4 linked regions of the Homo sapiens genome follow. The protein of the gene in region 2 interacts with the protein of the main gene of each other region in a pairwise test. Each region holds a gene or a part of one and is shown on either strand. Other genes may lie near its edges. The genes, in order: BNIP3, TMPRSS2, ADIPOQ and PLLP.

Region 1 (7,262 bases), on a different chromosome or scaffold from region 2:
CTTCTCAGGTTAGTGGGGAGAGAACAAAAGAGACCCGCCTGACAAAAGATTTCAAGTATCAAGTCAGCTGGGTAGGTAAATCAGGTCCCTGGCTTCCAACGGGGCTCGTTTCCCTCCACCTTCCTGTTGCCTCCAGGACCTCTGGCCTCCTCTCCTCCAGGACCCTCCAGGGCCTATTGCACGCAGCCTCAGGCATCTGGGCTCCAGGTATCCCACTGCTGCCTCATGCAGAGACCTTGGCTTCTCCTTAAGTGTTGTTGCCAGCCTTATCTTTCACTCCACCTCTAGAACCTCATTGTGACCATCTATGAAATGCAAGTCTTGGACGAGAATCTCGATGTCTGCAACCCCTTCAGGTCTCAAAGCACACAATGCTACAACTCCACTCCAAAATAAGTAGAAAACATCTTTTCCCCTCATACAACTTTGCCCATGGTGAGTTGCCTCTGACAAGAGAGAGAACCATCTGCCAGTTGCAGACACAGCAGTGGGTGAAGAGGTGAGGGCTTGGATTATTAAACACGGCCCTCCAGAGTAAATGGGCATGCACTTTACTGAACTGATGCCCTCCTGGTGAAGACAGTGGGTCCTTCAAGGAAGTGATGCCCCCGCCACCGTGACACGGTCTCGTCACAGAATCCTACCTCTCCTGCATGTTAGCAGTGACATGTCTAGGAGAAAAGGGCCAAGTTCATGGCTACAGTGAGCTATAATGATTGTGCTACTGCACTCCAGCCTGGGGGAGTAAGACTGGGCTTGTAAAAAAAAGGAAAAGGACAAATACGAGCATCCTGCGAGTCAACAACTTTAGCTAGAATGATCAAGAGATAGAAAGGAACAGAATCAGCCCATTTTGCCATTAACTCTTTAGGAAAAGCAGTTGGCCCCAGAGGGTACACTCAGAGGAGAGAGTGCTTGCTGCTTCCATCCGTGGGTCTGGCTGCAAGGCTCCCATTGTTCTCTGTTCCGAGGTCAACAAGGGGCAGTGAAATCGGACAGGCAGAGGTGAGCGCTGCCTGAGCCACCGCTCCGTCCCGGATTTGCAGGCAGCTGGAGCCCGCGGGACCGGCCAACCCCGCCCACGCCGAGCCCACAGTGGCCCCGTCCTGCCGCGCGGACACTCAGGGCGGCCCAAGGAATCGCCTACATGGGATCCACCCCGCGGGTAACTATCTTTTTATAGAATAAACAAAACAGAAAAACAAAAATCTCGTAACTCCGGCGCTGGCCGCCTTGCACTGCCAATGACTCAGCAGCCTGTGTAAGTTACATATTGGAGAGAGGACCGAGCCCCCCGGAGCCCCCTCCACCTCCCAGCGCCCAGATCCCAGCCGGACAGTGAAACGCACAATGTCAGGAGTAACGCGGCTTCACAACCGGAAAATGGGTGATTTTATGGCAAAGAGTTTATAAAAACATCCCTTGGACTTTATTTTATGACAAAAGATAGGAAAACACCTCTTAATCTATTTCAAAATAGTAATTAGCCAATGTTTAAATTTCAAGAGGAAAAATCCGAATTACAGGATTTTAAAGAATATGGTTTTAGGCCAGGCGCGCCTGGTGGCTCAGGCCTATAATCCCAGCACTTTGGGAGGCCGAGGCGGGAGGATCGCTTGAGCCCAGTTCAGACCAGCCTGGGCAACACAGTGAGACCCCGTCTCTTAAAAAAAAAAAAAGGTAAAAAAAAAAAGCTTGTAGTGTTCATATGTATATATATATATTATTCAATATATTACGGTAACTAAGTCCTGCCTAGTAAAATCTTTTTTTTTGTAATAAAATTAGCAACTCACTAAATTTATGTGAATATATGGTTTTAAAAACTCTCAATGAAGATTAAAAGTTCACTGTCAGAGGTTTCAGCAGTCCTTTCCCAAGCTTATTTACATGCTAATTTTGCTTAGTAAACTCTGGCTTCAAAGAACACAAAGGTCAGCTGCCACCAGGTCCCTCCTCCGAGGCTTTGGCCCTAGGGACCCTGGGAAGGCGGCTTCAGTGCCCGCTTCCCTGAGCAAAGGCTCGTCTGGACTCTGACGCGGACCCACCGGGTGGGGTGGGTCTCCACGCCACCCGGCTGTGCGTGGGGCAAGTCCTGCACCCCGGGCCTGCGTTTCCCGCTGCGTGAACGGATGGTCTTGCGAATCTAGCCAAGGGCACACAGCGAGCCTCTACTCGGGCATTAGGCAGGCTGTAACGACTGAGTGCTGCACGGGCAGCGTCCTTTTGCTTGTGTTTTCTTAACCCGTAAGTCATTTAAAGCTTTGTTTTGGAACGACCCTCTAGTGAAATTGGAACATGCCCATTTAATGCCATATTTTAAAAACGCTGTAACCCCCTCCCATCTCCGCGTTCACCCTTGAGGAAATCCTAACAGTCACCATGGATATAAACATTAATAACAAAATTAAAGCTCATAACAGGCCACTTGCCACGCCTTGGTGTTTGGTCATTAAAACCAATACTGGTCTGAACTACAGACCGCGGAGGGCAACGTGGACTTTGAGGCTGTTCGGTCCAACTGCGAGACGCAGATTCACCTCCAGGTGGAATTCTAGCTCGCGCGGAGCTGGAGAATCGGGGCTTTCCCGTGCGGTCCGACCCGGGTCCAAGCCAACCCCCGCCCGAGTGGCGAGGCCGCGAACCCCGGGCAGTACGCGGGGTCCCCACGCCCCGGGCTCCGCATGCCCGCAGGAGGGGTGGGTACGGAAGGGGAGGATGGCGCAGCCTCGCCCGGCCCGCGATGCCCCCTAGGCCTCCCCGGCAACCTCCCCTTGGCGCCCTCTTGGCCTTCCCCAGGCTTCCCCCCCGCGCCCCCTCGGCTCCCGCGCCGCCTCCTCCGCCTCACCCTGCAGGCTCTCCTCCTGCATCCCGGGCGCTCCGTTCTGCGACATGGCGCCAGAGGGCAACTGCGGCGATCGGAGTCCGCGCCGGGCTGCGGGATGTGCTTCAGCTGCGGGCGGTGGGAAAGCGGAGGTCGGAGCGCCGCGGCCCAGCTGCGCTCCCGGACTGAGCGGAGCCCCGCAGCCCGGCCGGAGGAACTCACAGGGCAGGGCGGGGCCGGGCGGATCTGCGGCCGCGTCGCCCATTGGCCGCGACTTGGGGCCTGCGCGTGCGCAGGGGCGTGGGGTGCGTGTGGCACGTGCGGCGCGTGCGCGGGGCGGGTCCTGCGGTGGGCGAGGGGCAGAGGCCTGCGGTGCGCGGGACGCGGGCGGGGAGAGGGGCGGGGCGAGGGGCGCGCAGGCGCGAGGGCGGCAGCGACCGCCTGAGGTGAGCCGGCCCGGGCTGGACGCCGCGGGCCGCGTGACGAGTGGGCTGCGCGGTCGCCGCCGCGGCGGGCGGTGGGCCGGGTTCTCCTTTGAAGGGGCGGTGGGACCGGCGGACTCTCTGGGCACTGGCTACCACGGAGACGCCGCTACGCTTCGGGGCGGGGCCCGTCTTTCCATCCTGCTAGTGGGGAAACTGAGGCGCGGGGCTGGCGGCGTCCGTGCGGGGGGCGTGAGGACGTGCAGGGAAGCGGCCGCTGCGGCTCCGAGACGGCCCGTGGGGTCGGGACCTGCGCCCGGGGCGGGAGCTGCGAGCGGTGGGCCGGAGCTGAGCGTCTCGGGACGGGACCGCGTCCCCGGGTCTTTGCCCGCCCCGCCGGGGCGCCCCTGCGTGAACAGCGGGGCCCGTTGTGTCCGGGGCGTCCGCCCGCAGGAAGAAGCGGAGGCTCGAGCAGAGTCGAAAGAGTCTGCCCGAGGGAGGCGCGGACCCCAGGGGCCCGGGAGAGGCGCGCCGTCCGCCTCTGCGGCAAGGGGCCTCCGGGGTGCAAACGCGGTGTGGGGCGGGCGTCCCCGGGGTGGGACGCCCCGTCCACGGGGCGGAGTGGCGCTTGGTCGGGCCGGGTGGGTGCCCGGCTTCCGTGGGAGCCAGCCTGGCGTGGGGGCCTCGCAGCCTCGGGACTGGGAGGCACTTTTCAGAGGAAAGTCGCTTTCTCATTTCCCGCTTTTGATCAAAAGTCTTTCTTCTTGAAAGCATTGTTGATCCAAATCCAAGTGTCAAGGTGCGCCCCAGAAACGCTGCTTCCCAGACAGTCGTGTCTGGTCTTGCGGGAAAGGAGGAGGCGTCCCGCCAAGGAACCAGGCGCTCAGAAGCTGAACCGGGGTCACAGAGCCGCGAAGCCAGACCTCAGTCGCTGCGTGCATTTCATCCCTGCTCTTGCCTGTTGAATCGTCTCTAGTCTTTGGAGTGCCATGATTTTAGTTTTCTCAGGAGTAACAAACATCCAGAGGCCAGTGTGGGGCGCATGTCTTTCATCTCAGCACTTTGGGAGGCCGAGGCAGGAGGATCGCTGGAGCCCAGGAGTTGGAGACCAGTCTGGGCAATATGGCGAAACGCTTTCTCTCCCCTAAAAAAATACAAAAAACTTAGCTGGGTATGGTGGCACCTGCTGTGGGAGGATTCCTTGAGCCCAGGAGGTAGGGGCTACAGTGAGCCATGATCAGGCCACTACCCTCCAGCCTGGGCAACAGTGTGAGACCCTGTCTCAAAAAAAAAAAAAAAAAAACCGCCAGAGATACATAGCATAGCATTAATAATTTCGATAGTAGAACTGTAGTGCTGGCCAGGCAGTGGTTCTTGTGTGTAATCCCAGCATTTGGGGAGCCCAAGGCAGGAGGGTCACTTGAGCCTGATAGTTCAAGACCAACCTGGCAACACAGAAAGACTCCATCTCTATTAAAACAAAAATGTTACCAAGTACGGTGCACATAAGGATTACAATGAAAAAGAGAATGTGTATGCCAGAATGAAAAACGGAACCTATTCGAGGGAGTCAACTAAAAGTATTACGAAGAAAATCAAATGGAGAATTGTTCAGAATAGTGTAGCCTAGTGGCTTGTACTTTTTCCCATATGAGTTTCTACTTCGTGGAAAGGGTTTATGCACATCAAGAGGTATTTGCCACCATACATAGACTTGCTTGCTCAGCTAATAATCGAAAGCAATGCAGTCGTCCAGTGCAGCCTTAGCCAGTGAGTCAGTAGCTTTTTGTTGGGCTGTGATGGAGGCAGCAGTTTCATCAGCAATATTTCCTGATAGGCCAGATATGCTCGCAGTCATCCCAAGTAAAAGCAAACAAATACTGACTCTAGGTCCACTGGAATACTAAAGAAGGCACTACATAAATGAGTCACAGTGTCTCACTTCCAGCTGCCGAAAGAGGATGGGGCTTTGGTACTACCAGATGTCTGGGGATCACAGTGTTGATGACGGTTCTCAAATCTTGTACAGAATACCAGCTCTTCCCATTCGGCTTCCTTACAAGAAGGATTGGAGTATTACATGCTGGCGCAAGGAATAATTAGACCCCTTTTAATATAGTCTTTTGTTACGGATCTTATTCCTTCATTTGCTTCAGGCCTTAGAGGATATTGTCTGATATTGGGTAAAGGATTAATCAGGTTTACTTCCACTTTAATGAAAGTGGCTGAATATATTTTACTAATGTCGGTGGAAGACTCTGACCATAAGTGGTCTGACAAAGCTTGCCCTAAGCCATCCGTGTCATTAGTGCCAGTTGAAAAAAAAGTTGTTTGATCTGTATTTTTATAATTTCAGTAATTTCTCATTCTGTAGTTTTTCCATTTGCTCCTTCCATTCTAAACCTAAATCCATTTCTTCCTTTTGGGAGAAGGAAAGCATGCATTGTGACGTTCCAACACAAAATGTCTGCCTAAGAGATGTCTGAGAGGTGGGGGAATGAAGAAAAGAATGAGGGCCCTGGGATTCTAAGGGCTTGGACTTGTATCCAGTGATAGGCTGATGAGATAACCCTACCGTTTGTACAGTTCCATTACTCCAAGGAAGGAGACAACTTAAAGTGGACGAAAAGAGTGGCACCAGTGTCTTTGAGGGCATGTGTCTGTTCTTCATTTATGGCAATGTCCATTTCTCCTAAGGCATTAGTAGAAATAGGAACACCTCCCTTCGATCATCAGAGCAATCCTGTTCATCATGTGGGATCCTGGTTTTTCACTGGTCCTGCTGTTAAATTTTCTACAATCTTTTTTGAAATGGCCAGGCTTTTTACAGTAGAAGCAAACAGCCCTTTTGTCATTAGAAGGAGGCCCTGTCTTTTCTTAAAAGGCCTCATTTGGTTAGTCAGTTCTTGTAGTTGCAAATTCATAATCTTTGAGACCTTAGTTTTTTTCTTCCTTCTGAATTGTCTTAGGAAGTTGATCTGCATAGCTTACTAATTTGTGGGTTTGTATATTCACCCGGTTAAGCTGGTATCTTTTTAACTTAGGTAACCAAACCCTCACTTAAGCCACTGAGGAAAGTAGAATTTATGAGGAGTCATTCTAATGATCTTGGAGGCTAACAGGCATTCCAGAATATTATTTAAAGGTTTTTACAAACCCTTCAAAACATCTAAGCAGAGATTTGTCTGACCTTTGAGTACATTGTTGAGTTCTCCTCCAATCTACATTTTTAGGAAAGAACTGGGGCAAGGCATCAGGAAGAGCCTTGGCTAAAGTCCTTATTCAAAAAAGGGGGGCTTTGGAATTGACCGGGAAGGTGGAGCACCAAAGCCCTACCCATCAGCTCTCACACTTTGGCTTGTTGGGTGAATCTCACTGTCCTCTGGGAATTATGTACTTGTTTTCCCCGCACCCAAGGCCATCTCCCACCTGCAGCCTTTTTTTTTTTTTTTTAGAGACGGAGTCTCACTCTGTCACCCAGGCTGGAGTGCGGTGGTGTGATCTCGGCTCACTACAGCCTCAGCCTCCCAAGTAGCTGGGATTACAGGTGCCCACCACCACACCTGGCTAATTTTTGTATTTTTAGTAGACACAGGGTTTTGCCTTGTTGGCCAGGCTGGTCTCTTAACTCCTGACCTCAAGTGATCCACCCACATCAACCTCCCAAAGTGTTGGGATTGCAGGCATGAGCCACTGTGCCCGGCCTTGGAGCCTCTCTTCAATGCTCTCCAGCAAGCACTGAATAATCCACCTGCTTCGTTTTAGGGAATCTTTGTTTCAGTGAAATAAACCTCTCTGTCCTTAAATTTTGGATTCACTCACCCATTGTCATCGCCTCTGCTGTCTCTGATGCAGATATTTAAGGAAAACGGTTATTTTCCGGCAGCAACAGTGGACAATGAAGCTGTCATGTGTGGCAGGACAGCAGGGAGCAGGCAGTTGGTGAGAACTCAGCTTCTACAGGCAGGAATGGAGTGGGAGAGGCCCTCAGTGGTCCAGGATTTGGGAGGATTCTG
Region 2 (6,988 bases):
ATTGACCATTCACCTTTCCTTTCTACCTCAATGTCCAAGGCTTAGATCTGATCAGTGCTCCCCAAACCCAGAATTTTCAAGAGGGCTTAGAAAAATAAATAAATAAATAAGATGCCTGGGCCCCATTCTCAGAGTCTGATGTAATAATTGGGACCAAGGCAATGATCCCATATTATTACGAAGATCCCCTAGGGAATCTTGCCGCAGATTCAGGTGGAAAAGGGTAAGAGTTATCAGCCAGACTTTTGGTTTACATTTCCTGGTAGGGGGACAACACACTCGGATGATGATGATCGTGGTGGTGGTGGTTACTGGCATAAGGTACTGCACGCATCTACCTTTTCACCTACAGGACATTTGCACCAGCGTCTTGTCACTCAATGCCCCCATGGCCTAGGAGGTCAGCCCTCCGCAGGCCCCCTTTCAGAGTTCCAGGCACTCTGGCCATGTCATACTGCTAGAGGGAGCAGCACGGAGCCCAGGTAGGGCTGTGGGCAGGGGCTGGGCTCTTTCAGGTCGGGGAGAACCAGAGCCTGGCCCAGGAACAAGCCCTTTTCAATCAGGATTCCGGGCGCCTTGTTTCCAGCTTCCTTCCCTCCTTTCCTCCACTTGCTGGTAACATTCCAACATCCTGGAGGGAGAACCCAGGGAAGGATCAAAAGGAATCCGTACTGTGCCGATTGTCACTAAAGCCCCTTCTAAGCATCCTGTGTCTCCAACTCAGAGCCCGACACTGGAAGCACTGACCTATGGAGCCAGACAGGCCATGTTTATCCCCAGTTCTGCCCCTTACAGGTTACAAGATCTTGGACAAGCTTCCCAACCTCTCTTCCCCAGTTTCCTTACAATTGAGTTAAGTACATTATAAAGGGTTTGCAATGATGCCTGGCTGAAAAAAGTGCCACATCAATGTCTGTGGTTATTATTATAATGCCAGTGCAGCCAAATATACTCCTACAATTAAGGTGACTTGAGTTCAAGATAGAGTGGCCAACGGTGCCAGGCAGGCCAGCACCTAGCAACCTGGGAGGCCCTGCCTGAGGCTCCAGCAACAGCACAAGCTTGTTGTTAGAAGGTTGTCCTTGGCTGGTGGGAATAAGGGAAGCTGCTGGGGACCAAACAAATGTCCAAGCAGAGAACAAAAGCCCAGCCAGCTCACCAGCTGATAATTAAAAATAACCAGAGGCCGAGGTGTAGATGGCCATCTCCAGGCAGAGGTCTCAGCCCGTAGGTTGCACCCCGAACTCTCCAGCCTAGTGTGTCCTTACCCGAGGGTGTTGCTAGGTTTCATTCTAACCTCACCTGTCCAGTAGTTCTGTAGCGGAGCAGGGCAGGTCCTACTTCTTCAAAAGCACTCAGTAAAGGTGGGGAAGTCCTGAGCAACCTCCAGTGACTTTCTGGGGGAGCTCCCGGTTACCTAGCCCACCAGGTCCTCCCTTCACAGCAGCAGCTCAGGAGCCAGGACTGACTTAGCTACTTGCGTCCCCAAGGCCCTTTGCGCTGGTAAACTCTCCCTGCCACACTCCCAACCCCCATCCTTCCTTCAGGGGAGGCTGGCTGCATCCCCACTTCCTGGAGTACCTTCCCAGATCTCCTGGGACAGGTCAACAAACTTAGTCTCACTTTAGGTTTTCCAAATGCCTTGTAACTGGGCTGCGTAGCCTTTGTAATTTTCCATGATTCGGGAGGTTCTCGCGGCTGGGAGCTCCGTGAGGTCAGGCATTGCCTTGGGCGCGATGCGCTCATCTTTCCCGCGGGACCACTGCACAGGTTCGCACGGAGGGAAGGGCTGCGCAGCCTCGAAGGCGAGCCCTGGGTGCTCCCTGCCCACAGGGCTCACCTCGGGCCGCCGTGCTATCCTTTCCTTCCCAAACAAGCCACCAGGATTCCTCGTGATTAGGGCTGCCACCAGGGCGTTCTGAACAGGATTCAGGGCCACCGCGCTGTGCTCTACGGCGGAGCGGGCGAAGGCCCTCCTCTGCCACAAGCGCTCAGGGCTCTCGGCGCACAAACTTTCTGGACATGGGGCAGTTTTTCAGCTGGACCCGTGCTCGAGCAGAGCGCCCACTGCCAGACTGGAGCACTTGACCACTCAGGGTGCCACTGTGCCGAGCCGGGCAGGACAGGATGAGGTGGACCGAAGCGCCCAGGTGCCCCGCCTTCCCCCCAACCCGGCACGGAGCGCAAGCGGAGGAGCCAGACCGGCTCCTCCCGGGCGGGTTCCTGCCGGTGCCGGGTGTCCAGGAGGCCCCGGCCCTGATCGCCGCCAGCGGGTCGCCGCAACGGGGCCTGAGTCGCGAGCAGTCCCTCCCCGAGACTGACTGGCCGTTCGCACCTCGCCCGGGGGCCCTCCAGCAGCCTGGCCCAGCGGTCCCCGCCGCGCCGGCCGTATCGTTCCCGGCATCTCAGCGAGTTTCCAGTTTCTCCCTACCTCAGTAGGGAACCAAGAAGCAGAAGGAGTTCAGGTAACACTGCGGGACTGCAGAGATTTCCCCCAAACAAAGAAGCCAACCGACAGCACTCCCAGTCCTCCTCCCCAAAGAGAAAAGGCGCACCGGTGCTCCCAGGCGGGGGCCGTGGAGGGCAGGCGGACTAGGAGCCAGCTTTGGGGACCCCGGGGGACTCTCTTCCACCAACTGGCTAGGGACTCGCAGGACCACCTGCCCCAACCTCGCGATGCCAAGCCAACAGGGGCGGCGAGGGCTCTCGGCCGTGCGCAAGGGGTCCCAGGCGCCCAGCACTCTCCCAGCACCCCGGGAGGCGCCCTGCCCGGCTGGCCCCAGCGCTCGACCCTCGGGCGCACTCACCTGCCGCGCCGCGCTCCTCACACCCGCTTTCACCTCCGGGCGGGGCAGGGGGCATCGGCGGGTCCCAGGCGCCCAGGTTCCCCTCCCCAGCCCGGACCCCGAGCCGGGACCCTGGTACCGGCGCCGCTCACCTGCCGCGCTCCAGGCGGCGCTCCCCGCCCCTCGCCCTCCGCCTCCGCCTCCGCCTCCTGCTTAGCTCGCGCCTACTCGGCCCGGCCCGCCCTGGCTCTCGCTTTAATCTCAGGAGGCGGTGTCCCAGGGTCCAGGGCGACACCCCCAAGCGGGTCGCGGGTCACCCTGGGCGGGCGGGGGCGGGGGCGGCGGGAGGAGGCGTTTCCCAAGGGAAGTCCGGGACGGGTTCCCTGCCTGGCTCAACCCCGGCTGCGGAGGGACCCATAAGGGACTCTGGGGCGCTTCCCGGGCCCGGCCACAGCGGCCAACCTGCCCCTCTCCGGTCCGCGGCGCAGCGCTGCCCGAGGGCTCGAGTTTGGGTTAAGGAAGGGGATTCTGGGGAGCGCTCCTGGAGTCCTGGGTGAGCCCCCGGAGCTGCTACCTCACGAGCTCCTGTAGGCGGCCGGCCCCGTCTTGGCCTCCGGGGAACCCACTGTAGCCTCTGGGCAAGGACCCAGGGTAGGCCTTGGGGACTGCTGGCCCAAGCACGAGTGGCGGGGACACAGCGCCGGACGCCCAAGACCCTCCCCAGTCCGCCTAGGCTGGCATTTCTTGGCCCCCACCAGCGTCCGGTGGAAAGTGCTCCCCCGGATGGTCCCAGGTCTCTCGGCACCACCGGCCAGGGCGGGAGTGAGGAAGTGGTGGGACACACCTCAGCCAGGAAGACGTGGCTGTTCCCGGGCACTTGAGAGGTTCTTTCTAATGTTTGCAATTGTGGGGGCTCAGAATTCACCAGAATTTAATAGGACCGTAGACCAGAATTCATCACCCCAAGTAGGACTGGAGGAGACCAGAATCTGCTACCCCAACATAGTCCTCTTTGGCACATTGATGATTTGGAACTGGTTATGTTGAGGAACTGCAGACACCAGAGTACCTCTGAGAAAATGCCCTTTTGTAAAGGAAATTTGCACCTATAAAGGAAATGTTTGTTAGTCAGCAGATCTGTACCAGGAAGAGAGCTGTTCCCGGACAACTTTTATCACCTGGGAAACTTTTATCTGCCTCACACGGCAACCTGCGTTCACCAGACACCTCCTCTCCTCACGCTCCCCTCACTCCTCCACCGCTCCCCAGAAGCCTCAAACCCCCATTTCTTTCTGTCACTCAGAGTGACAGATAAGCCTCAATCATCGGGCTGCTGCACCTTTTTTTTTTCGTGTGTTTTTTTTTCCCCCAGAAGGGGTCTCACTCTGTTGCCCAGGTTGGAGTGCAGTGGCTCAATCATGGCTCATGGCAGCTTCAACCTCCCAGGGCACAAGTAATCCTCCCACCTCAGCCTCCCGAGTAGCTGGGACTAGAGGCGTGTGCCACCACGCCCAGCTAATTTAATTTTTTGTAGAGATGGGGGTCTCCCTATGTTGCCCAGACTGGTCTCCAATCTGGGCTCAAGCGATCCACCTGCCTTGGCCTCCCAAAGTGCTGGGATTACAGGTGTGAGCCCTCGCACTGGACCCCTCACTCACCTGGCCTGTTCTTTAAGTCTCATATTCTTGTGGGATTCCCATCTGTGAGTACATACATTAAAACAGCTTTTCTCCTGTTCATCTATTTGATGCCAATTTAATTTGTAGACTAGCTGAACGAACTAGAAGGGTAGAGGGGAAGCATGTTTTCTCCTCCCCTGCATAATATACAAATCAACATGATTTGCTTTAAAATGAGGTGGAAGCAGAAAAAAGCCCCATTCAGTCCCATCCCAGGCTGCCTTGGCTCACTGCTCCCTTCCTGGGAAGCTCTCCCGGAAGCCTCCTGTGGGGCAGGACTTTCCTAGTAAACCCTTCCCTCTCACTCCCTCCTTTGGCACCTTTTGTGGTCTGCTGGTGGCACCCACAACAGGGATTGTCCCCAATATGCCCCAGCCCTCCCCATCCCCCACACTGCCCTGCGCTCTGCCCCAGTGGGAAACCCTCAAAGACCCTCTCCAGCACATAGGGCAGGTGCAGTTGTCTTTCAGCGGCAACTCACTTATTTCTGTCTTGACAGTGTGTTTGGTGCCTACTAATTCCACCCAGAAACCAGGGAGTAAGTGCTGCCGCAGACTCAGGCCTCTTGGAGTGGTTGTTCATTCACCATTTATTTTTCCTTTTATATTAATAATCAGGGTTCTCCAGAGAAACAGAAACAATAGGAGAAATACAAATATATACACACATATACATATGCACACACATGTATATACACACATCTATATTTCTATATATTATTTATAAATATTATAAATATCTTATATATTATAAATACATATAAATATATACATAAACATGTATTTTATATGCATAATATAATACAGATATGATATATATTATACACAGCTTATATGTAATAAATATTATTTATAATATATATAAAGATTTACTATAAGAAATTGACTCATACAATTATGGAGGGTGAGAAGCTCTACAATCTGCCATCTACAGACTGGAGACCCAGGAAAGCTGGTGTTGTAGCTTTCAAAGTCCTGAGAGCCAGAGAACTAGAGAGCAGATGGAACAGATTCCAGTCCAGGTCTGAAGGCCTGAGAACCAGGAGTGCTGAGGGCAGGAGAGGATCAAAGTCCAGCTCACACAGTCAGGCAGAGAGCAAATTCAACCTTCCTCCCCTTTTCTGTTCTATTCAGGCTCTCAACCGATTGCCCAAATTGAAGGCAATCAGCATTACACAGTCTTTTCAAACATTAATCTCTTCCAAAAACACCCTCACACGCAGACACCCAGAAATAATGTTTAACCAGTTACCTGGGCATCCCATGACCAAGTCAGCTTGACACATAAAATTAACCATGGCTGGATGCAGTGGCTCCCACCTGTAATCCCACCATTTAGAAGGCTGAAGTGGGAGGATCTCTTGAGCCCAGGAGTTTGAGACTAGCCTGGACACCATAGCAAGATCCTGCCTCTACAAAAAGTTTATTAAAAATTAGCCAAGTGTGGTGGTGCGCACCCGTAGCCCAAGGTACTTGGGAGGCTAAAGTGAGAGGATCAGTTGAGCCCAGGAGTTTGAGGCTGCAGTGAGCTTTGATTGTGCCACTGTACTCCAGCTTGTATGACAGAATGTGACCTTAGTTTTATCTAAGCATGAATATATATGCCACCATAAGTTGACCCCTTGTCGACTTCACACCTACACATCTCCTTACACCATACTTTATCTCTAAAGACAATAGCAAAGTAATAATTTTGCCTAATGTGATAAAACTCTTCTGCATACAACCAAAAAATGCACTAAGCCCTTCCCCAGAAGTGGATGTAAAATTCTCCAGTGTTTACACTTCTCCTTGGTATTCCATAACTTAAATACCATAATGTAAAATTAACAATACTTAATACAATGATATAAAGTCAATATGCCTTAAGTTATGTAATAAAGGAATATGAGAGAAAAGACAACAGAGATATATACTGTATATACAAATATGTGCACAAATGTATTTAGAAAAAAATAATGAGAAAATACTCGTGACAATCTAATGCTTTATAACAGGTTGCATGGGCAATAGCTGGTGTTTGTAACTGTCTTCTTCCACTACCCACTCTGCGTTCCCTCTGCCTTCGGGAAGCATGACAGCTGGTCATGGTTCTTAACCTGATGGAGTGATACAAACCTTCATTCCTCAAGGGTCTGGGCCATTAATAGCCCTGCCTGGATTGTGTTGTAGTTTTCCATTGACCTTAATCACAAGCATGGTAAAACTAAAAGATGCCCTAAGGAATCGTTGTATTCCAGACACACTCTTCCTTACCTTCCTGGTGGAGTAGAAGTAGTCTATAGCTTCTCCTTGGTAGTCCAGATGGGTCTCCCCAGCCAATGCATAACTCTCTCTTTGCCTTTTGATTCAGAGGCATGTGGAGCTCAGCGTGGCCAGGTGGCAGTCGTAAATTCTAGTTTAATTGAATCATTGTTGTGTCTCCTGGTGGCAGCATTCCTCCCTCCGGAACTAAGACCTCTAGGTCAGCAGAGCGTAAAGTCACAGAAACAGCAAGCGAAAATTTTGCTAGTGGGCCACTTGG
Region 3 (6,972 bases), on a different chromosome or scaffold from region 2:
TGAATTATATCAAACTCCCATTTTTAAAAGTCAAAATGGGCCGGGCGCAGTGGCTCATGCCTGTAATCCCAGCACTTTGGGAGGCTGAGGTGGGTGGATTACCTGATGTCAGGAGTTTCAGACCAGCCTGGACAACATGGTGAAATCCCGTCTCTACCAAAAATACAAAAATTAGTCAGGCGTGGTAGCGGGCACCTGTAATTCCAGCTACTTGGGAGGCTGAGGCAGGAGAATCACTTGAATCCATGAGGCAGAGGTTGCAGTGAGCTGAGATCGCGCCACTGCACTCCAGCCTAGGTGACAAGTGTGAAACTCTGTCTCAAAAAAAATAAAAATAAAAATAAATAAAAGTCAAAGTGTAGAATATTGGCAGTTTCACACGGTGCAACCCAATAATAAATGGCATAACCAGGAATCAACTCAGCTTTGCCTAGCTCCCAGGAGCTTTGCCCGAAAGCCTTCACTCAGCCCTGGGAGAGCTGTCAATATCTCCATGCCCAACACACACACATACCCGCACCCATACACACACCTCCACCTATGCACGCGCACACCCACACACCACATCCACACATCCACATACGTACGCACCACCCCCCCCCACACATACACACCCATCCAAATGAGTGTGCGCGCGCGCACACACACACTCACACACATACATACTGTCAAGGAACTAATAAAACAGAGCATCCCACGCACCACCACATTTTTAGGATAAGTCTCTCTCCACATGATTGAATTTCTGATTGAAATTCCTGATTGAAAGTATCTCTCCAAAAGACATCACCTCTTGACTTTAGCCGTATGTCTGGGACCACCGGTCCACTGGCTTGACAAGGAGTAGGTGGAAAGTTTGTCCCTACAGCCACCTTAAAAAGAGCAAGCATATAATCCCAGCCTTTTGGGAGGCTGAGGTGGGAGGACTGCTGAGCCCAGGAGTTTGAGGCCCCCCAGCCAATATAGTGAGACCTCATCTCTACAAAAAATTTTTAAAAATTAGCCAGGCATGGTTGCACACACCTGTAGTCCCAGCTACTCAGGAGGCTAAGATGGGAGGGTCACTTGAGCCTGGGAAATCGAGGCTGCAGTGAGCTGTGATTGCACCACTGCACTCCAGCCTGGGTGATAGAGTGAGACCCTGTCCCCAAAAAAGACAAGGAGCCAGTCTTGTGTCTATTTTTTTTTTTTTTTTTTTGAGATGGAGTTTTGCTTTTTTTGCCCAGGCTGGAGTGCAATGCTGTGATCTCAGCTTAAGACTCCTCGGCCAGGCGCAGTGGCTCACACCTGTAATACCAGCACTTTGGGAGGCCGAGGCAGGTGGAATATGAGGTCAAGAGATCGAGACCATCCTGGCCAATATGGTGAACCCCATCTCTACTAAAAATATAAAAATTAGCTGGGCGTGGTGGCGCATGCCTGTAGTCTCAGCTACTTGGGAGACTGAGGCAGGAGAATCGCTTGAACCTGGGAGGCGGAGGTTGCAGTGAGCTGAGATTGTGCCAAAAAAAGACTCCTCAAGACTTAAGGAAGAGTGGCAGCAGGGACTGCTGAGGAAGCTGCCGGGCTCCCTGTGTACCACTGGCCTTCATGAACAAAGCTGACACCATCATGCTCCTTCGGACATATTCTGCTAGCATAAAGGGACCCCCATCTCCCCAACCGAATTAGGCAGAGCTGGCCTTCCTTCTAGCGGAGTTCCTAGGAGTGAGTTGGTGCCACCCCTTGTGAGGCTTGATCCAAAAACCAGAACCTCTCCAGACCAGGGATCCATGTCCTCTAACACAAGAGGGGCAGACCTAACCTCTAAAATCCCTCCCACTCTAACCTTCAGCATCCACAGCTCAAAACAACCAGGATGCCTCAGAAACAGCACTCACTGGGGCGAGCAGGATTAGGCTTCAGAAAAACCAGGTAGATCCAGTTTCTTCTGTCAGAAAATGTTTTTTTTTAATTACAATTTTTCATAAGTTGCCACTATATGCCAGGCTTTTCTCATTTTATCTCATTAGAGCCTCTTTTTCTTTTCTTTCTTTTTTTTTTTTTTTTGACACAAAGTCTCGCTCTGTCACCCAGGCTGGAATGCAGTGGCAACAATCTCGGCTCACTGCAACCTCTGCCTCCCAGGTTCAGACAATTCTCCTGCCTCAGCCTCCCGAGAAGCTGGGATTACAGGCACCTGCCATCACGCCCAACTAATTTTTGTATTTTTGGTAGAGGCGGGGTTTCACCATGTTGGTCAGGCTAGTCTGGAACTCCTGACCTCAGGTGATCCACCCGCCTCGGTCTCCCAAATTGCTGGGATTACAGGTGTGAGCCACCATGGCTGGCCTCATTAGAACCTCTTGATTACCTTGTAAGATATCCCTATACCTACATATATCCCCAAATCCATAGACAACAACCATGTCACACTCATTGTATCTTGTGAACCCAATCCACTGTCTAGCCCATAGAATTTGCTCAGTAAATATTTGCTGAGTAGAATAAAGTGGCAGAGCTGGATTCCTAATTCCAGTCTGAAGTCAGTGCTCAGCTTGACTTTTCTGAAGCTGCCTTCATATATGCTTCTTCCTTTGCCCTACCTGGTCAAGCTAAGAGGCAATGTATTCCCTTATCCCCCTTAATCGAATTGGACTTCATCTGTGGACAGACCCTTCCACCTTACTGACCCTAACTTTTTCTCAATAGGTATCCTGCTACAGAGCGAACTGGGCAAAATTCAGAATGGTTCCATGCATCTTAGAAGGAATGTCTGAAATAACCCTTTCTCTCTTGGGGCTGTGGGAGAACGGAGGAAGAAGCCCAGTGCATATCTGCCTCCACCAGTGCTGCTCTGACCAGAGTATCCACCTGTATCCACTCCCACACTACTACGGACGGGAGAGCCTGGGTGATCCCAGCCAGAGGCTATGCATGCATCCCCCACCCAGCCTGGAACTTCACAGAATTGCTCTTACCCTCTGGTATGGAATCAGAACCACAGACTGCAGTCAGAATGGAAGTGAGGAGGAGATGGCCCAGCCTCAACAGCCTGGTACTCACGGGGGCAGGCAGTCCCCACCTCACAATTGTCATTTCCCATTGGCCAACTCAGTGAGGGCCAGAGGCCGGTGGGCAGGCACATGTCCCTGGCAGTTGCCCACAGCCTGCACCCTAGGGAACCTGGTACAACCCAGCTTGGGCTTCGGAAGCCAAGTGGAGCTTCAGTCAAAGCACTTGTGTTTCCAGGCCTTGACCCTTATTTTGCCTCCTACAACAGCAACAGAAGATGGGGCAAAAGTCAAAACCACAGCAGGAAAACAAGATTTTTTTCCTGCATCTGACGGAGAAACTTCCTAATGTAAATGAATTAATTGCTCAGTGGTCCAGGAGGTCTCCCCCTCCCATAGATTTGCCCTAATAAGTCAGGGACGCCAATTATCACACCACAGTCTTGCTCACTGTGCATGATTAAGTCTGAGACTGTGTACGTTCAGACAGTGAGTGCTTCAGAAGGGAGCACTGTCAGAGGGGTCTGCAATCAGGTAAGAAATAGAGCACATCCTCCACTCTCTGACCTGGACCCTGGATTTAGGAAAGACCTTGCACATGAATTCTGAGAACTGGGGTGTGGGGAAGTTCCTGGAGTGGTGTGGGGCTTGGCAAGTTAAAAAGGCCCTGAATTCTTAAAGCTTGTGGCCTCGAATCGTAATTTGAATCTAATATAATAGAAAACTTACATAAAATGTGATATTGGAATACCATCTTTCAAGATTTTTTGGTTCCAAAATTTCGGATAACATTTTGACAGCTACCTTGGTATGTGTGTGTGTGTGTTTGTGAGAGAGAGAGAGCCTGTTTTTCCAGTTCCTTAAGCATATATATGCCTATTCTGTCTCTTGTGGAACCCAGCTCTGGCCTAGAAGCAGCCTGGAGAACTGGAAGCTGCCACCCACTTAGGTGTTCCTAGAAAGTTTAGGCTTGAAGTGGCAACATTCAACACCTTGGACTTTCTTGGCACGCTCATGTTTTGTTTTTGAAGGGCAGGATCTGAGCCGGTTCTTGCAAGCCACACATTCTGATGAATTAAATTACGACCCCAGCAAGGGCTTAGGATGCCAGCACCAACTTCAACAAGACATCCAAAACAGAATTTTCTCAGACAGAGGCAGGGCAAGTGTCTGCCTGCCCCCCAGATATCATCTCCACAGTCCACACAGAGCCTAAAAATCTACCAGTAAAGTCAAGTCCACCATTAAAGTAAAGATCTGATGTAAAGCCTCAGCTTCCTGCTAATGTCCAAATATTTCAAGAGAAGTCACATTAGGCCGTTGAGATGAGAGACATGAGAGACTTTCCAAGGTCCCCCGGCTTAAATAAGTGGCCCATGAAAATGAGGTTCCATATAGTTTAGCAGGCTGATTGAACCAAGAAGACAACAAAAAGAAATAGAAGCAACTCTCAATTATATCACTGTTTGATTTTTGTTATGGTGTTTTCCTATTTATTTTTGGTTTATGTTACTGTCTGTTGCTATTTAATAGAACATAAACTTCAGGTCAGGTGCAGTGGCTCAGGCCTGTAATCCCAGTACTTTGGAAGGCCAAGACAGGCATATCACCTGAGATCAGGAGTTTGAGACCAGTCTGGCCAACATGGTGAAACCCCATCTCTACTAAAAATGCAGAAATAGCCGGGCGTGGTGGCACATACCTGTAGTCCCAGCTACTTGGGAGGCTGAGACAAGAGAATCACTTGAACCCAGGAGGTGGAGGTTGCAGTGAGCCAAGAGCACCATTGCGCTCTAGCCTGGGTGACAAGAGTGAAACTCTGTCTCAAAAAAAAAAAAAAAAGTAAACTTCAGGAGAGCAGAGATTTTGCCTATTCAAAGTTGTATCCCTTAGTTCCTAGAATAGAACCTGGCACAAAGTAGGCAATAATAAATGTTGAATTAATGAATAAATGAATGATCATATTCAACTTTCCTTTGGAGATAACTATTATTGTCTTTCATTTTACAAATAATGAATCTAGAGTTCAATGAGGGTAAATAATTTGTTCAAGGCACAAGTCTAGGATTTGAACCAGATCTGTCTAACTAAAAATCCCTATGCTTTCTAATTCCTCATGCCCTTCACCCCTCTTGATGGAGTGTGAGGCCTCAAGGTTGATGTATGTGCTTCAGGGTAGTTTCAGGGCTGGCATAAAAAGTATTTTCTTTGGCCGGGCACAGTAGCTCATGCCTGTAATCCCAGCATTTTGGGAGGCTGAGGCGGGCAGATCACTTGAGGTCAGGAGTCTGAGACCAGCCTGACGAAGATGGTGAAACCCCGTCTCCACTAAAAATACAAAAAAGTTAGCCGGGCGTGGTGGCAGGCACCTGCAATCCCAGCTACTCGGGGGTCTGAGGGAGGAGAATCGTTTGAACCCAGGAGGCGGAGGTTGCAGCGAGCCGAGATCGCACCATTGCACTCCAGCCTGGGCAACAGAGCGAGAATCCATCTCAAAAAAAAAAAAGTATTTTCTTCTAACTTTATAAGAATGCAGCTGGTTAGAGAAAGCTGTAGCTATTGCACAAGGTGGAATAACTTTAGCCCCACAATCACACCAAGACTGTGCTGGGCCTGGCTGTCAGTCAGTGACATTGTGAAAGCCTAGCATTTTGCGAGGCCTCAGGGCAATCTGCCACCCACCACAAAGGCCGTCATGTGGAAAGAGCCAGTTCTGTGGCATACTGGTTTAAAGACTGTAATTGAAAAACATTCAATCAGAAATGCCTTGAGGCTAGTCTTTTTCCCAGGACAGAACTATTACTACTTAGACCGAAATAACCAAATAAATGCGATCATTTCCTCCAGGGTACCGTAGCTACAGGTCAAGCCCCTGTTAGCATGTGAGTTGGGATACTGAAACAGGCCAAATCACTTAATTTATCTTAAATATGTTTAAGCATGGCCATATATTTTTGCTTAATTATGATTTTTAAAAATAATCTTAACTGAAGTAACCAAGCATAAGCACTGTATTTTGAAAAATAAAGATTGGAGCAAGATGGTAGAGTGAGCACGCCCTGCAGCAATGTACGCCATCCCCAAACCCCTAGAAATGGCAAGAAAGGAGAACATTTCTTTATCTTTTTTTCTTTTTTTTTTTTTTTGAGATGGAGTTTCACTCTTGTTGCCCAGGCTGGAGTACTATGGCATGATCTCAGTTCACCGCAACCTCTGCCTCTCAGGTTCAAGCGATTATCCTGCCTTAGCCTCCCGAGTAGCTGGGATTATGGGCATGTGCCACCACGCCCCGCTAATTTTGTATTTTTAGTAGAGACAGGGTTTCCCCATGTTGGTCAGGCTGGTCTCGAACTCCCGACCTCAGGTGATCCACCCCCTCGGCCTCCCAAAGTGCTGGAATGACAGGCGTGAGCCACCGCGCCTGGCCAGGAGAACATTTCTTTATCTCTTCTGAAGGTATGGCTACGGCTGTACTTCTGAAGTATCTCAGATGATAATTTAAGTATCTGGTTTGCTACTGCATGATTTGGACTGTCACCTCCTGCCACCGACCAGAAGGCCATCATGATTCAAGCGCAGTCAATGCAGGTAGGCAACCCTGAATTCATACTTTTTAAAGCCTGTGTCCTTGGACTACCCCCAATACTAAAAAATTGTACTAGTCAAGGTACAATAATTTTAGAAAGGCTGGAGAAGCAAAGGGAGATGATATTGCCTAAAGACCAGGAATCGGTGACTGCTCCTGGACCATAGCCTATGAGCCTGCGCTTACTGCATGTCTTGCTAGCTGCTCCACCATTGCCACTGAACAGGAGCCACTGTCACCGCCACTGCCAAGGGCGCTCACTGAAACACAACAGCTCCTCCCTTCTTCCCCACTTCAGTCTTTTCACGGTTGTCTCCCATGTGCACAAGCTAACTGGTACCCATCTGGCAAAGGAATGTAGGATGTGTCATTTCAGGCATCAAGCTCCAGGAA
Region 4 (7,000 bases), on a different chromosome or scaffold from region 2:
CTGGCATGGTGGTGGGTGCCTGCAGTCCCAGCTACTCGGGAGGCTGAGGCGGGAGAATGGCGTGAACCCGGGAGGTGGAGCTTGCAGTGAGCCGAGATGGCGCCACGGCACTCCAGCCTGGGAGACAGAAAGAGACTCCGTCTCAAAAAAAAAAAGAAATAAAAAAAAAATCTGCTTGTTGGAGAAGCTGCATCCTGAGCTGTTTCTCTGGCAACAGGTAGTTCCACTGGGTCTGAAATGGGATATGTGGGGGTTAATCCAACAGGCACCACCATCTGCTGGGAAGCCATGGTAGCTCCCATCTATCAGGCCAGCACTAGGCTCAGGCCCTTTGCCAAGGCCTTTAGATCTTCTTAGTCGGCCCCATTTTAGGTGAGAAAACTGAGGCTCAGAGGCCAGTTCTTTGCCCAAGATCTCACAGCCCTCCTCCACAGGAGTGATTTTTCTGACTTTTCTGGCCTATGGTCTTAATGACCACGTGTGGCTTTGCTGCTACCTTCCCAGGATCTGTCATTATGGAGGGAGTGGTGGGGACCCTGGGCCCACAGCCTGCTTTCCAGGAGCTCTTGGTCAGTGAGAGAGGTGCCCAGAGGATGTGCTTCTCCCAGAGGGATCAGAGAAGGCTGCATGGAGCAGGAAATAAATGAGAAAATGGAAGCTAATTCTCCATCAAACCCTTCTGTTTCCCAGGATTTGATGAATGTTCCTGGTATGGTGGGAGGAAGGGGAGGTGGGTAGAAAGGCTCCCAGCTCCTGGAGAAGGAGATACACTTTTCATTCGGTATCAGAATGTGTCCTGAAGAACCAATCTCAGTATTCTTCACAGATGTCTGGTGGTGTTCATTGATTTATCACTATCGTTATTCCTTGTAGATTCAGAAAGAACACCAGATGGAATATGATATTAAACCACATAAGACAGAAGAGTTAAAGCGATGTATCTTTAAAAGCTGGTGGTGTGGAGGGGAGAATTGACTTGCAGCAAGTTTAAGGCTGTTGATTATTTGTTGAACTTCCTAGCAGCCTAGGCAAAAAGGGAAACATGAAGAATCTATGCAGATAGCGTCTAAAAAAGGAGGCAGGTCTTTGTTTTGTTTTGTTTTGTTTTCTCTTGCCAATGGATTCATGTCACAAGGCAGGCAAGTTTGATCTACAGATAACTCTTTTGGTTTTAAAAAAAAAAGGCATCAGTGCTACAGATTTTTGTGTAGCTCAGGTGGAAGAATGCAGAAGGCGTGGTTATTTGCTTATGGGGAGCTCCCAAAGCCTTTTTACAATAAGTATAAAGTAGTGCTGTTAGGTGCCCATCTCTCATTTTTTCAAGCCTCCCCAAGCCGTGGGGAGAAGGATGATCTTATCTGGATTTACTGATAAGTAAATAGGCTCCGAGAGGGTGAGGAACTTGTCCAAGGTCACACAGGATAGAGTGGCAAGCTTGGCTTTGCACTTCGATCTGGAAATCCAAAACCTGGCTCTAGCTATGCTTCCTCATCTTGTTTACTTTGGGGGTGGGAAGTTCTAGAGTGCTTTCTAGGGGGAAAAGGGGGACTGCAGGAAGGGAGACTCATCAGGGGCCAAGGCCATCAGGGAGGGCTTCCTGGCATAGGAAGGGAGAAGGAGGATCAGGACAGACCAGAGCTTGTACAGAGACCTGTCAGTCAGTAGGCGTCCTTGAGGCCCAGGATGTGGAAGCTGTGTGAATGCCCTGTGGCGGTAAGGCCATTTGGTTTGGTACCTTCTGTCCTTCCATTTTGCCCCACCTCCTGGGATTGGGGGTGGCCACACAATTCCCACTTTGCAGGTGAATAACAGATCAAAAGCCTCACCTAGCTAGGCAGGTGGCAGGGTGGCACATGCCTGTAGTTCCAGCTACTTGGGAGGCTGAGGTAGGAAGATTGCTTGAGCCTTGGAGTTTAAGGCTGCAGTAAGCCATGATCACGTCACTGCACTCTAGCCTGGGTGACAGAGTAAGACCCCTACTTTTTTTTTTTTTTCCTCGAGACAAGGTCTTGCTCTGTCACCCAGGCTGGACTATAGTAGTGTGATCACAGCTCACTGCAACCTCAACCTCCCAGGCTCAGACGATCCTCCCACTTCAGGCCTCCTGAGTATCTGGGACGACAGGTACATGCCACAATGCCTGGCTAAGTTTTTATATTTTTTGTAAAGATGGGATTTCATCATGTTACCCAGACTGGTCTCGAACTCCTGGGCTCCAGCAATCCACCTGCCTTGGCCTCCCAAAGTGCTGAGATTACAGGTGTGAGCCACTGTACCCAGTCCTCTACTCTTAACAAAAAAAAAAAAAAAGGAAGAAGAAGAAGAGAAGCCTTCCCTAGATCTCCATGATCCATGGGGTGGCATGGAGAGTGCTGATGGGAACACAGGCCTGGACGCTGAGAGCCTTGGGTTCAAATCCTGGCTCTGTCCCTTTCTGGCTGCATGATCCTGGGGGAGTTCCCAAATTTCCCTGAGCCTCACTTCCTTGTCTGTCAGATGGTGATGGCAGGATCTAGATCATGCCTGCAAAGAGCTAGCCTAGCACTATATGTGGGAATGAAGGACAGTTTGGATTCACAGGGTTATAGGATCCGAGGGTTCTTATGCAAGCATAAGAGGTGCCTTTGCAGCATCTCCAACATGAACTTGCATGCTTCCAGAGACAGGGAGCTCAGTTCTTCTTAAGGCTGCCTGCTCCATCCTTGGGCACTTGGGAGTGTTGGAAAGTTCTTCCTTATGGTGATACCGGCTCTGTCTCCGGCCCCAGGAGGCAGACCAGCTCCTCTGCAGATGAAGGGCAGGGCAGGGACTGAAAGCCAACTCTGGTCTCCAGGAAGGGGCTACCTAGATGAGATTGTTGGAGTCCGAGTGAGGTGTGAGCAGGGCTTGGTCACACTCGGATTGCAATGTCTGAGACTCCCGGGGCTTCCCTTAGCACTGAGATTTGTGGGTGGTTCAGTCTTTTTAGTACAGCATTCCAGGCCCCGCATGCCCAATATCTTCATCCAACCCAGCTCCACTGCACAGAGCAATAAATGCCTTGTATTGTTAGTTCCCCCCACACTCCCCACTTACTGCAAGGGGGGGAGTATTGAGTGTTTGGGAATTAATGTGTAATTACATTATGAATATATGAATACATTCTCCTCACAAAATAAAAAAACCTGTACAGATTACACTAAAGCTGTAGTTGGATTACCCACCTCTGTCCCTAAGGGGACAACTATTTGGGGTGTTTCTAGTCTTTTTTCCTGTGCACTTTTGAAAACATTGATAGTTTTATTCTGTATCCTTTGTTCAGCAAGTTGCTTTTCTCATACTTGGTGCATCTGAGAGCTCTTCTTGTGCTCTGTCATCCAGGCTGGAGTGCAGCGGCGTAATCTCAGCTCACTGCAACCTCCGCCTCCCGGGTTCACGCCATTCTCCTGCCTCAGCCTCCCGAATAGCTGGGACTACAGGTGCCTGCCACTACACCCAACTCATTATTGTATTTTTAGTAGAGACGGGGCTTCACCATGTTGGCCAGGCTGGTCTTGAACTCTTGACCTCAGGTGATCTGCCTGTCTCTGCCTCCCAAAGTGCTGGGATTACAGGCATGAGCCACCGTGCCTGGCCACTCTTCATGTTTTGAGACTTGTCTTCCTTCCTTGTAAACTGTTGTGGAGTAACCCGTAGTGTCCCGGCAGCCTCTGCTCATTTAGCTGTTTCTCTACTGATGGAATTGTTTTATTCTTTGAAAAAAAAATTACAGAGACATAATACAAAGCACTCAAATAGTAGAAAGGGTAATCAAGAAAATGTAATCTCTCTCATCCCTGACTGACCACGCCCCACAGCTGCCCTCACCCCAGGCAACCACATGCCTTGTGTCTCATTCCAGGGTGAGTGGATGCATATTTCTACATAAAACCCACATCCTCACTTAACCACAGATAGGTGCTGTCTGGGCATGTGCCAAGCCATGCTTTTCCCCAGGGCAATACACCTAGGGATATTCTGTATCAGTGCACAGCAAGCTGTGTCCATCTTTTTCATACCTTTATTACCTAATTTCTTTTTCTTTATTTTTATTTTGTTTGTTTGAGGCAGAGTCTTGCTCTGTCACCCAGGCTGGAGTGCAGTGACGTGACCTCAGCTCACTGCAACCTCTGCCTCCCAAGTTCAAGTGATTCTCCTGCCTCAGCCTCTTAAGTAGCTGGGATTACAGGCACGCACCACCATGGCCTGACTAATTTTTGTATTTTTAGTGGAGACAGGGTTTCACCATGTTGATCAGGCTGGTCTCAAACTCCTGACCTCAGGTGATCCGCCCGCCTCGGCCTCCCAGAGTGCTGGGATTACAGGCGTGAGCCACCGCACCCGGCCCCTAATTTCTTTAATAGGTAATGTATTTACAATGCTCAAGAATAAAATAGACAGGGAAGGAGTACAGTGAAAAATCTCTGTTCCCTTTTGGTTAAAGTTGACTCCTTCATGCCCACTCTCAGTTTTCTATATCCCATTTTAAGACTTTCTTTAAGGAGACCTATGCAAATGTGGCTCTAGATTCCTCTCTCTCCCAGTTTATATAGTCTCCCCAAGATATATAGTCTAGCCACATCCTTCTGCACTTTTTCTTTTACACTTAAAAAATGAATCTTGGGGGTCCTTTTGTCTCAGTGTGTGGAGTGCAATTGCTTCTTTCTTTATGGCTTCTATAGTATTCCACCATGCAGCTGTGGTGTGACTGTGTGGTCAGTCCCTTTGTTGACAGACACTTCGGGTTTTCTATTCCTTTGCTGTTGCGCACCCTGCTGCAAGAAATGCCACCAAGTGCATCTGTACGATATGTTTCCAGGAGTGGGACTACTGGGTGGGAGGATACATGCATTTGGGATTGTGATGTAGATTGCCAAATGCCTTCCGGAGAGGTCACACCCTTCCTGCCTGCAACAGCATGCCTCCTGGAAGGTTCCTGTTCCCACAGCCTCCCAACATGGTGATTTAACACACTTCTGGATGTGCCCCAATCGAATAGACCAAAATGATAGGTCAATGTAGTGTTATTTTCATTTCTCTCTCTCTCTTTTTTTTTTTTTTTTGAGACAGAGTCTCACTCTGTCACCCAGCCTGGAGTGTAGTGGCATGATCTTGACTCACTGCAACCTCTGCCTCCTGGGTTCAAGCAATTCTCTGGCCTTAGACTCCCGAGTAGCTGGGATTACAGGCGCCCACCACCAAGCCCGGCTAATTTTTGTATTTTTAGTAGAGACGGGGTTTGGCCATGTTGGCCAAGCTGGTCTTGAACTCCTGACCTCAGGTGATCTGCCTGCTTCAGCCTTCCAAAGTGCTGGGATTATAGGCATGAGCCATGATGCCCAGCTAATTTTTATATTTTTAGTAGAGACAGGGTTTCACCATGTCGGCCAGACTGGCCTCGAACTCCTGACCTCAGATGATCTGCCTGCCTCAGCCTTCCAAAGTGCTGGGATTACAGGCATGAGCCACCAAACCTAGCCTATTTTCAGTCTCTTATCAGTGAGGTTGACCTTTTAAAAAATGTGTTTGGGTTGTTTGTTGGTTTTTGAGACAGGATCTCACTCTGTCACCCAGGCTGGAGTGGAGTGGCACGATCAGGAATCACTGCAACCTCCGCCTCCAGGGCTCAAGCCATCCTACCACCTCAGCCTGCCGAGTAGCTGGGACTACAGGTGCTCCTCACCATGCCCAGCTAATTTTTGGTAGAGACATGGTCTCACTATATTGCCCAGGCTGGTCTCGAACTCCTGGGCTCAAGCAGTACTCCTGCCTCGGCCTCCCAAAGTGCTGAAATTATAAATGCAAGGCGCGGCGCCAGGATCTAAAAGATGTTTAAGAGCCGTTTGTATTTCCTTGTCTGTTTGTATTCTTTGCTCATTCTACTGAGTGTGGTTGGTCTTTGCCTTAATAACTGCTAGGAGTTCTGGATTATTTGCAAATATTTCTTTCCTAATTTGTTTGTTTTGCTGGGTTTTTTTCCCCCTCTCATGGTGTTTTTTTTTTTTTTTTTTTTGCCTTGCAAAATTTTGTTGTAGTGTTTTTTTTTTTTTTGCTGAATTTCTTTATTTCATTCCTCTTCCTTTTTTCTTTCTGGGTTCTGGAAATTGAATCATAGTTCAGTCTTTTTCACTCCAGTTGTATCTGTCTGGAATGTATTAACATTGTTACATATTTGTTGTATTTAATTACCTTGTTAGCTTCTATTGTGACAGATAATACAGGTTTCCCACTTCCTAGTGATTTAAGTTTCCTTTTTAAAATTAGCTTATATATGTGATATATACAAGTTCATCAATGGGGACTAGTTTAGATAAATTATGATACATCTGTACAATGGTGCATGATGCAGTGAGTAAAAAGATATCCCCCCACCCCTCAAAGAAGACAATGCAACAGCTCTGTGTATAAGGATGGACAATCTCCAGGCTACCTATTTAAGTGAAAAAAGCAAGGTGCAAAATTGTAGCATGCTATCATTTGTGTGGAAGAAGTACACAGATACAAGACACACTTATCTGAAATGCATGTGTGTGTGTGTGTGTGTGTGTGTGTGTGTGTGTGAAGTCCCTGGAGACACACATAAGAAACCACTCTTGGCCGGGCGTGGTGGCTCACGCCTGAAACCCAGCACTTTGGGAGGCCGAGGCGGGCGGATCACGAGGTCAGGAGATTGAGACCATCCTGGCTAACACGGTGAAACCCCGTCTCTACTAAAAATACAAAAAATTAGCCGGGCATGGTGGCGGGCGCCTGTAGTCCCAGCTACTCGGGAGGCTGAGGCAGGAGAATGGTGTGAACCCGGGAGGCGGAGCTTGCAGTGAGACAAGATCGCATCACTGCACTCCAGCCTGGGTGACAGAGCAAGACTCCATCTCAAAAAAATAAACAATAAACTACTCTTGATCCAGGCACAGTGGCTCACACCTGTAATCCCAGCATTTTGGGAGGCCGAGGCAGGCAGATCGCCTGAGGTCAGGAGCTC

The links.
Region 1: the proteins of TMPRSS2 (region 2) and BNIP3 interact in binary tests that used the Homo sapiens proteins (3 or more experiments, as listed by UniProt).
Region 3: the proteins of TMPRSS2 (region 2) and ADIPOQ interact in binary tests that used the Homo sapiens proteins (3 or more experiments, as listed by UniProt).
Region 4: the proteins of TMPRSS2 (region 2) and PLLP interact in binary tests that used the Homo sapiens proteins (3 or more experiments, as listed by UniProt).

Annotation. Positions count from the first base shown.
Region 1 is NC_000010.11:131,978,913-131,986,174, forward strand, and holds the start of BNIP3 (BCL2/adenovirus E1B 19 kDa protein-interacting protein 3), read right to left. Parts: upstream 3,012-7,262; 5' UTR 2,895-3,011; coding exon 2,849-2,894; intron 1-2,848. UniProt on the Homo sapiens protein: Apoptosis-inducing protein that can overcome BCL2 suppression. May play a role in repartitioning calcium between the two major intracellular calcium stores in association with BCL2.
Region 2 is NC_000021.9:41,505,143-41,512,130, forward strand, and holds the start of TMPRSS2 (transmembrane protease serine 2), read right to left. Parts: upstream 3,017-6,988; 5' UTR 2,939-3,016; intron 2,924-2,938; exon of another isoform or gene 2,863-2,923; coding exon of another isoform or gene 2,808-2,862; intron 1-2,807. UniProt on the Homo sapiens protein: Plasma membrane-anchored serine protease that cleaves at arginine residues. Participates in proteolytic cascades of relevance for the normal physiologic function of the prostate.
Region 3 is NC_000003.12:186,838,738-186,845,709, reverse strand, and holds the start of ADIPOQ (adiponectin precursor), read right to left. Parts: upstream 3,001-6,972; 5' UTR 2,961-3,000; intron 154-2,960; exon of another isoform or gene 103-153; intron 1-102. UniProt on the Homo sapiens protein: Important adipokine involved in the control of fat metabolism and insulin sensitivity, with direct anti-diabetic, anti-atherogenic and anti-inflammatory activities.
Region 4 is NC_000016.10:57,274,673-57,281,672, reverse strand, and holds part of PLLP (plasmolipin), read left to right. Parts: intron 1-7,000. UniProt on the Homo sapiens protein: Main component of the myelin sheath that plays an important role in myelin membrane biogenesis and myelination. Plays an essential function in apical endocytosis. Regulates epithelial development through the regulation of apical endocytosis.